Homo sapiens: one gene and its partner. The protein of the gene in region 2 purifies or fractionates together with the protein of the main gene of each other region. This does not show direct contact. Each region holds a gene or a part of one and is shown on either strand. Other genes may lie near its edges.

Evidence for each region.
Region 1: the proteins of PABIR3 (region 2) and DMBT1 purify together in Homo sapiens (affinity purification with mass spectrometry; one large-scale study listed by BioGRID and IntAct). This does not show direct contact.

The regions. Positions count from the first base shown.
Region 1 is NC_000010.11:122,581,062-122,584,878, reverse strand, and holds part of DMBT1 (scavenger receptor cysteine-rich domain-containing protein DMBT1 isoform e precursor), read right to left. Parts: intron 3,087-3,817; coding exon 3,054-3,086; intron 2,280-3,053; coding exon 1,956-2,279; intron 558-1,955; coding exon 528-557; intron 1-527.
Region 2 is NC_000023.11:134,827,497-134,831,313, reverse strand, and holds part of PABIR3 (PABIR family member 1), read right to left. Parts: intron 2,089-3,817; coding exon 2,032-2,088; intron 1-2,031.

The DNA of each region.
Region 1 (3,817 bases), on a different chromosome or scaffold from region 2:
AATATTTATTATCCCTCTCCCTGCCCGAGCATGGCCTATGCCTCTTCTGGATGCACATGTAGCGCTGCAGAATCTGGGTGTTGGAAGGAGTGAGGAAGGGAGGTGTCAGGCCTGCACTGACATTGCTTGCCCATGGCGGCAGCCATGTTTAAGGCTTTAGCTGACATTGGCTTCCGAGGAGACTTTGGCAATCACTCTCAATTCTCAGGAAGGTCATATCAGCTCTGAATAGAAAAGGGTCAAAGCTATTTAAATATGAGGCCACTTCCTAAACCTCTAAGGGTTGGCCACTGGGACAGTATGAAACTGCTTCATGAAAGCTGAGATAAATGGAACAGAAGACAGAAGCCTCTTGAACCCTATGTCTGGTTCAGAAGCGCCATTCCAGGGTCTCAGTTACAGAGCAGGGGAAAATTGTATGCCATGTAGTATTCACTCAGAGAAGAACGAGGGCTCTGTGGAGTGCAGAAAGGGATAATTATACAGAAAGAGAAGGGACATCCCAAGGAAGGACACTGGGGACTCACCTGGACTGGGCGTCGACCAGGAGTGGGCAGCTGTGAGAAAGAGGAGGTCAGATCAGATGCACTATACAGAAGCTGGCAAAATCGGAACAAAGGTGGAAGGAACTAAACAGATCATGCCTTCAGTCCACCCTAGGTCCCCATCACAGAGGGAGGGCATTGCCATGCATGTCCCCACAGAGATGCTCCTTGGAGGGTGTCTGGGCAGATCCTGTCCACTATTGCCAACTCCAAGGTGATTAACCTTGTGTCTGCCCATAGTAATCAGGTTGACACAAAACCTACCCTCTCCCTTGCATGTCTTAGCAGTCCCTGAGTTAGCAAATGTGAGGAGGCCACTCCAGCCAAAGTCCTGCCTCTGATGTTCCAGTCCAGCCCACAGGCGTTCATAACAATGCTTTGCCTAGCAGACCTCATGGGGACTGCACACTCCACACCAGACCGGTGCACAGGCAAGACACTGCAGTGCTCTGGAGGGAGTTGTGGTCAAGGACTCACAGCCCCCAAATCTCAGGCCAGAGAGGGACAGACACACATCCGCACTCCTAGCCTTGTGTCTCTATTAAGACATCACCTTATTGGGCCTCAGCAGAAGACCGCGCTTCCTAGCAGGAGCCTGTGGTTCTGGGCTCCTCCCAGGGAGACAGTCCCTCCCCCATCCTCTATATGTGCTTCATCCATGTAACCCTTTGCAAAATCTTTCAGTAGGGGAAAGATGGAACCCTGGAGAGCCAGGGTGCTATACTTTAGAGGCTTGTCACATCCAAGTGTTATATTGCAACTGAATCCCCAAGTTTAGAGGTGAGGCCTGATGCACCAGGTCTGGGTCATGGAGACCAACACTGCATGAATAACTTAGTGCCCTCCCTGGTCAGGGGTGAGTTCTTCTCTTAGTTCCTAGCAAGAGCTGGTGGTTGAAGAGTCTGAGCCCTCCCTCTTGCTCTCTCTTCCTTCCTCCCTCACCTTGTGACCTCTGCCCAGGCCACCTCCCCATCCCTTTCTGCTAGGAGTACAAGCAGCCCGAGGCCCTCATCAGAAGCTGAGCAGACGCCTGCACCATGGTCCTATGCAGCCTGCAAAGCCAAGACCCAAATCAGCCTCTTTCCTCATGAACAAACCAGCCCCAGCTATTCCTTTCCAGCCACACTAAAAGGCAAAGACCTGGCACTTTCCTCTTCTCCCTCTGCTTGCGCTGCCTCGGTAGGTGAACAAAGGCGTGACCCTTATTTCACTTTGGCCCGTTGTCCTACCTGACCTCCTCAAAACCTGGCAATGAAGACTCATGCAGTTTCCTAGGAGAGAGCTAAGGAGATATCAGATATATAGGAAAGGCTGAAAAAGCTCTGAGTGAGGAGATCAGAACATAATGAGACCTCGCTTCCTGAGCAAAATCTACCCCAAGAGAGGGAGCCCAAGGTCTTGGAGGCCCACCTGAGCAGATGACACCAGCGTCTTCACTGTGCTGACAGTTATGGGAGAGCCAGCCATTGTGGGGGCAGCTCCACAGGTAGGACTCATAGCCTGAGCAGCGCACGTCATCCAGGACAATGGGTCCTGAACCCTGGCCAAACCGGGCATTTCCTGGGGCTGACGTGGCCCAGCCACAGCCCAGCTGCCGGCAGACCACATTGGCGTCACTGGTGTCCCAGCTATCATCACACACGGTGCCCCAGGAGCCTCGGTATAGGACCTCCACTCGGCCCTGACACCTGTCACCTCCATTCACCAGCCTCAGGGCCAAACTGGATTCAGGTCCTACAGGGGAACACAAGAATCCTTCATCCATCTCCATTCTGAGGTGAAGGAAAAGGCATGGACAACACTCAGGGCAATGGGAAAAGTAGTCAAGTTTGAATACAAATGCCAAAGTCACCAGGGCACGCAGTCACAATGGCAGATGGCTGCACCCAGAGGTTAAGCTTGGTCATAGTGGAAAAAGTGATGCCCTATTCTACTCAAGTCTATAAAAGCTCAAGCTATGGGTAAGCATGTATGACCCCAGAGGAGAGGACAGGAATGGACACCCCACTCCCCACTCTGGGTGAACACAGGATGGAGCTACACAGCTACAAATGACAGGCCTAGACCCCCTCCATATTCAGGAGCTTATTGGCACCTGCATGGGCCTCTCTGCCTTCTGGCAAATTGCCAGTGATGGCAAGGCCTTGGCCACACAGGTGCAGGGACCGGCACTTTCACCCGCTCTTCAGAGGTCTGGATCCCATGGCCTGAGGGCCAGGAATGAGGTCCCAGCAGCATTAAGGAGCCCTCCAGTGCTCGTCCTGAGCACCTGGATGAGGATCTTTCCTGACCACTTGGAACAGGATTCCATGGGAGACAGGTCACCAACACCCTCCGTCCTCAAACATCAGACCCAGGACTGGCTCCTCAGAGATTCCACCTTCCTCCCACGCAACCCACAGGGACATGAAAACAGAGAAGCCCACATTGAGCCTCATCCTATCAGTTTCAAACACAAAATATGTCCAGAGATAGTGAGTCCTAGGGAGGGGTGAGAGGGTTATTTACCTGCTGTTGATGCATGTGAGGTCGGCCAAGTATCTGTAAATTGCAACAAAAGGAAAAGACAGAATTAGACTTGAAGGGAAAAGGCACAGAACAAAAGGATCTCTGGGAGGAGGAATCAACGTGACAACAATTCCACTTCTTGTTCCTGCCATTTGTTTCCCATGTGTCTTCCCAGGTCTCCTGTGCTGTGAACTCATCCAGGGACAAAGGTCCTGCTGGAGACCAGACTGAGCCCTCCATTTCTGTAATCCTGGGGTATCTTTCTATCTGTTAGAGGATGCCCCCACCATGCCATCCCACATCTGCTGATGCATGGACTGACTAGGACATCAGACGCCATTGCTGAAGCTCGGACACTGCCAGGTAAAATGTTAGGGGAACCAGGGGCTGCCCAGGGGACAATCAGGAATCAGGTTTCTGGTTAAGCAGAGACATCACAAACCTTTATTATCCCTCTCCCTGCCCGAGCACAAACTCTGCCTCTTCTGGATAGAAATCTCGGAATCATAATCTCGGAATGTTTCCAGCAGTGATGGATGGGGGTATCGAGCCTGCCCTGACGATGCCTTGAACGGGTCAGAGGGTGACACCCTCAATTTTCAGAAACTATATGTGAGTCCGGAATATAAAAGGACCAAAGCTCATTAAACATGGGGCCACTTCCTGAACCTGTAAGGGTTGTCCACTGGGACAGTATGAAACTGTTTCATGAAAGCTGAGAGGGGTTGAAAAGAAGACAGAGGCCTCCTCAATCCTGTGTGTGT
Region 2 (3,817 bases):
GCAGATCACTTGAGGTCAGGAGTTCGAAACCAGCCTGACCAACATGGTGAAACCCTATCTCTACTAAAAATACAAAAAAATTAGCCGGGTGTGGTGGCACGCACCTGTGATCTCAGCTACTTGGGAGGCTGAGGCAGGAGAATCCCTTGAACCCAGGAGGTGGAGGTTGTAGTGAGCTGAGACAGCACCACTGCACTCCCGCCTGGGTGACAGAGTGAGACTCCATCTCAAAAACAAAGAAAAAAAAAAAAGAAATATGCAACTTAAGATATCTATCAGACCATTAAACTGCTGAAAATAAGTCTTAATTTTCCATTCAATCAGTATCCAGATTGAAAATTAATGTTTTTCTCTTTTCCCATCTCATTCATTTTCTACTTATATTTCATTTTTAAATATTTATAATACATATTATGTTACTATGGAAATAAACTGCATTAAACTTATATTCCTAACCAGTGTAAATTAGGATTTATATCAAGCTTCACCAGCAAATAGCAACACATAACCCATTTTCAAATATTTGGTTTAATTTAGGAGAAGCAAAGAAACATATTGCACAGATAAACACGAGGTCACTTTACTCCTTTGAACTTGTTTCATTCCTTAAGAATTTCTAAAATAGCTACATACAAAGACAGGAGTAAAAGCAAGTTTTACCCACTAAAAAGTAAAAAAAACAGCCTGGCACGGTGGCTCACGCCTGTAATCCCTGCAATTTGGGAGGCCGAGGTAGGCAGATCACCTGAGGTCAGGAGTTCAAGACCAGCCTGGACAACATGATGAAACCCCGTCTCTACTAAAAATACAAAAATTAGCCGGGCGTGGTGGCAGGCGTCTGTAATCCCAGCTACTTGGGAGGCTTAGGCAGGAGAATCGCTTGAACCTGGGAGGTGGAGGTTGCAGTGAACCAAGATGGAGCCACTGCACTCCAGTCTGGGCAACAGAGCGAAACTCTGTCTCAAAAAAAAAAAAAAAAAAAAAAAAAGGAAAAAAACCATTTTTACCATACTTTCTTGCTAGTGGATAAGCTGACCTTAGGGAAGCCATGCCACAGGGGTGAAAGGGAGAGAGGGAAAAGAAGCAAGAGTTGGAGGACTAATAACTAGGATTACAAGATGGTATTATGGGCTTTGTGCACTGAAACAGGGAAAGGGGAGCTGGAAAATAATCCAGTAATCTGGGGCCAAATCTTGGCTCTGACATTCACCAACTCTGGAGATTGGGTAAATTGCTAAATTTCTCCCCTTTTTAGTTTCTGACCTTATAAAGTTGTTGTAAGATAAAATGAGACCACAAATGTAAAGTACCTGTTAGTACTAAGTGAATAATAAGTTAAGCCTCTCTTGGGGGAAAAAATGTCTGCTTGTAGCTGGGTCAAAGAAAAAAATACCACCTGTGGGGTAGTGGTGATTTGATCTTTTGAGTTCTGTGGCTAATCCTTGGATAATTAAAAGGTTGAATTCTGTATTATGCTTGTGCTATTAAGCATGCATGTGCACATGAGTGCACACCCACCCACCCACATACACCCTCCCAACCACATACACAAACACAAACACACAAACACAGAGACGTGCATGCGTGCACATGGGCACAAAATATAAACCAGTGAGGTACAATGTGTCCCTGAACTCAGATCACTAAGAACAAAACAATAGCATGAAGGCCATTTTATCTGTCAAAAAAACTCATCTGAGGGTTAAAAAAATAATAACTACAGTTATTATGAAGCTGAAAATTAATTTTTATGTGTAGCATTCCACTTTCAGATCCCTGGAAGAAAGAAGCTAGACTCAAGGTATAAGAGTATGCAGTATTTCTAGAAATTATTAATTAATTAAAATAGCTAATAAGCCAAAAAAAGTGCTTCTTAGTTTTGTTTTTTTTTTGAAGAAATCATTCCTAGAAATAAAAACTTAATATTACACGTGACCTCACTTAGAATTACTGAAACATAGGTATTTTCACAAAGAAAAATAAAATTTACTTTTTTAAATGAACAGCTGTCAGTTTGGAAAGTCTTCTTACCTGTTTGATTTGATGAAGGCGGCTGATGGAACCATGAAAGGGAGGAGGTGGCAACAACTGAAATTTAAAATATAGAAGTCAAGCTTGCTTTAATGTTTGTGATTAATTACATCTCAACATTAAGTCAATGTTGAATTACCTAAAATATTTATTTAGTGTCTTATGCATGCCAGCAACAGTATCAGTTAGGTTCAAAGTTAAAAAAAGATCCAACTGGATCTTGACTGAAAATTATACTAATCAAAAATCAACACTTTCCAAAACAGAACAAAATAACTGTTATCATAATAAATACAGAGCAGAACATCAATAGAGGATTTTGTTTGTCTCTACCTTTTCTTTCCTAAGGCACTAGATCTTAAAATTGCCTCATTTTTCTTGCCAGTTTTAGCCCATCATTAAAGCTTAGGTAGAGGTATTACCCAGAACAAAAAGCTGAAACAGTCATTGAATCAGTAGCTAGCTTGCCAAGCATACTGCCCAAAAATCATAAACAGAATAACTACATCAAATATCCTGGAATCTAGCTGGGAAACCAAACTTTCATAATATGAAATGACTCTAAGGTAATCACTTTCAAGTCATTTAGCACATTTTACTCTTGGTTGCTAAGATACTTCTTGTCTAGGTCCTTTCTCTTTTTCGGGGCTACTTTTTCCTTTTCAGTCTTTTCTCAAAGCTTATGAGGACCCACACAAGAGGGGAATGAAAGAATGGAGGGATTTAAAGCTAAGTGTGAAAATGAGGCTTGAAAATTACCTTCAGAATTCATCTGTAAACTCTTTCTGTACCGTGGTTATTTCTTAAAATGCCAGATAATGTGTTTACCATATCTTAGTTTCAAATTCTATCTTAAGAGCACATTGAGTTGTACATTCAAAATATTGAATGAGGCCGGGCGCGGTAGCTCATGCCTGTATTCCCAGCACTTTGGGAGGCCAAGGCAGGCAGATCACTTGAGGCCAGGAGTTCAAGACCAGCCTGGCCAACATGGTGAAACCCCATCTCTACTAAAAATACAAAAATTAGCCATGCGTGGTGGCATGTGCCTCTGATCCCAGCTACTTGGGATTTTTAAGAAAAATAAAAGACCTGGAGGCCAGGCACGGGAGGCTCATGCCTATTATTCCGGCACTTTGAGAGGATCACTTGAGGCCAGGAGTTCAAGACCAGCCTAAGCAAGATGGCAAACACCCACCTTTACAAATATACATATATATATATATATATATATAGAGAGAGAGAGAGAGAGAGAGAGAGAGAGAGAGAGAGCACTGAGCTAGACTCTGAAGATCGAAAGATAAATAAGACATTTTCCTGTCCTTGAGCAAGTCAAAGTCTAAGTCTAGTTAGCAGAAACTAGGTCACAGCCAAATGGCAGAACAGAGTTACGATTTGGGTTCAAAGGACAGAGTTCAAAGGACAGAGAACTCTGTGTGGGTCTTGAGGAAGTCTTCATAGAGGAGTAGCAACTCATTAGATAGAGAAGAGGAGGGAGGACATTTCAAGGAGTGAGAGGAAACACTCAGGCAGAGAGGAATGTTCAGGGAACAGAAAGGTTCAGGGTGGCTGAAACTTAGTACCTGCGAGGGTACAACAGGAAACAAATTTAGGGAAATTAGGCTAAAACCAGATTGTAGTTTTTGGACTTTAGCCTTTGAGCACAATAGGAAACCCAGAGCATAGATTCCTCTGAGTTCTTAAACCTCAAAGCTGTTTAAACAAGATCATATCTGCTTTAAAAAGGTAACCCTAGCAACATCATGCAGAACACATTGATGGTGGA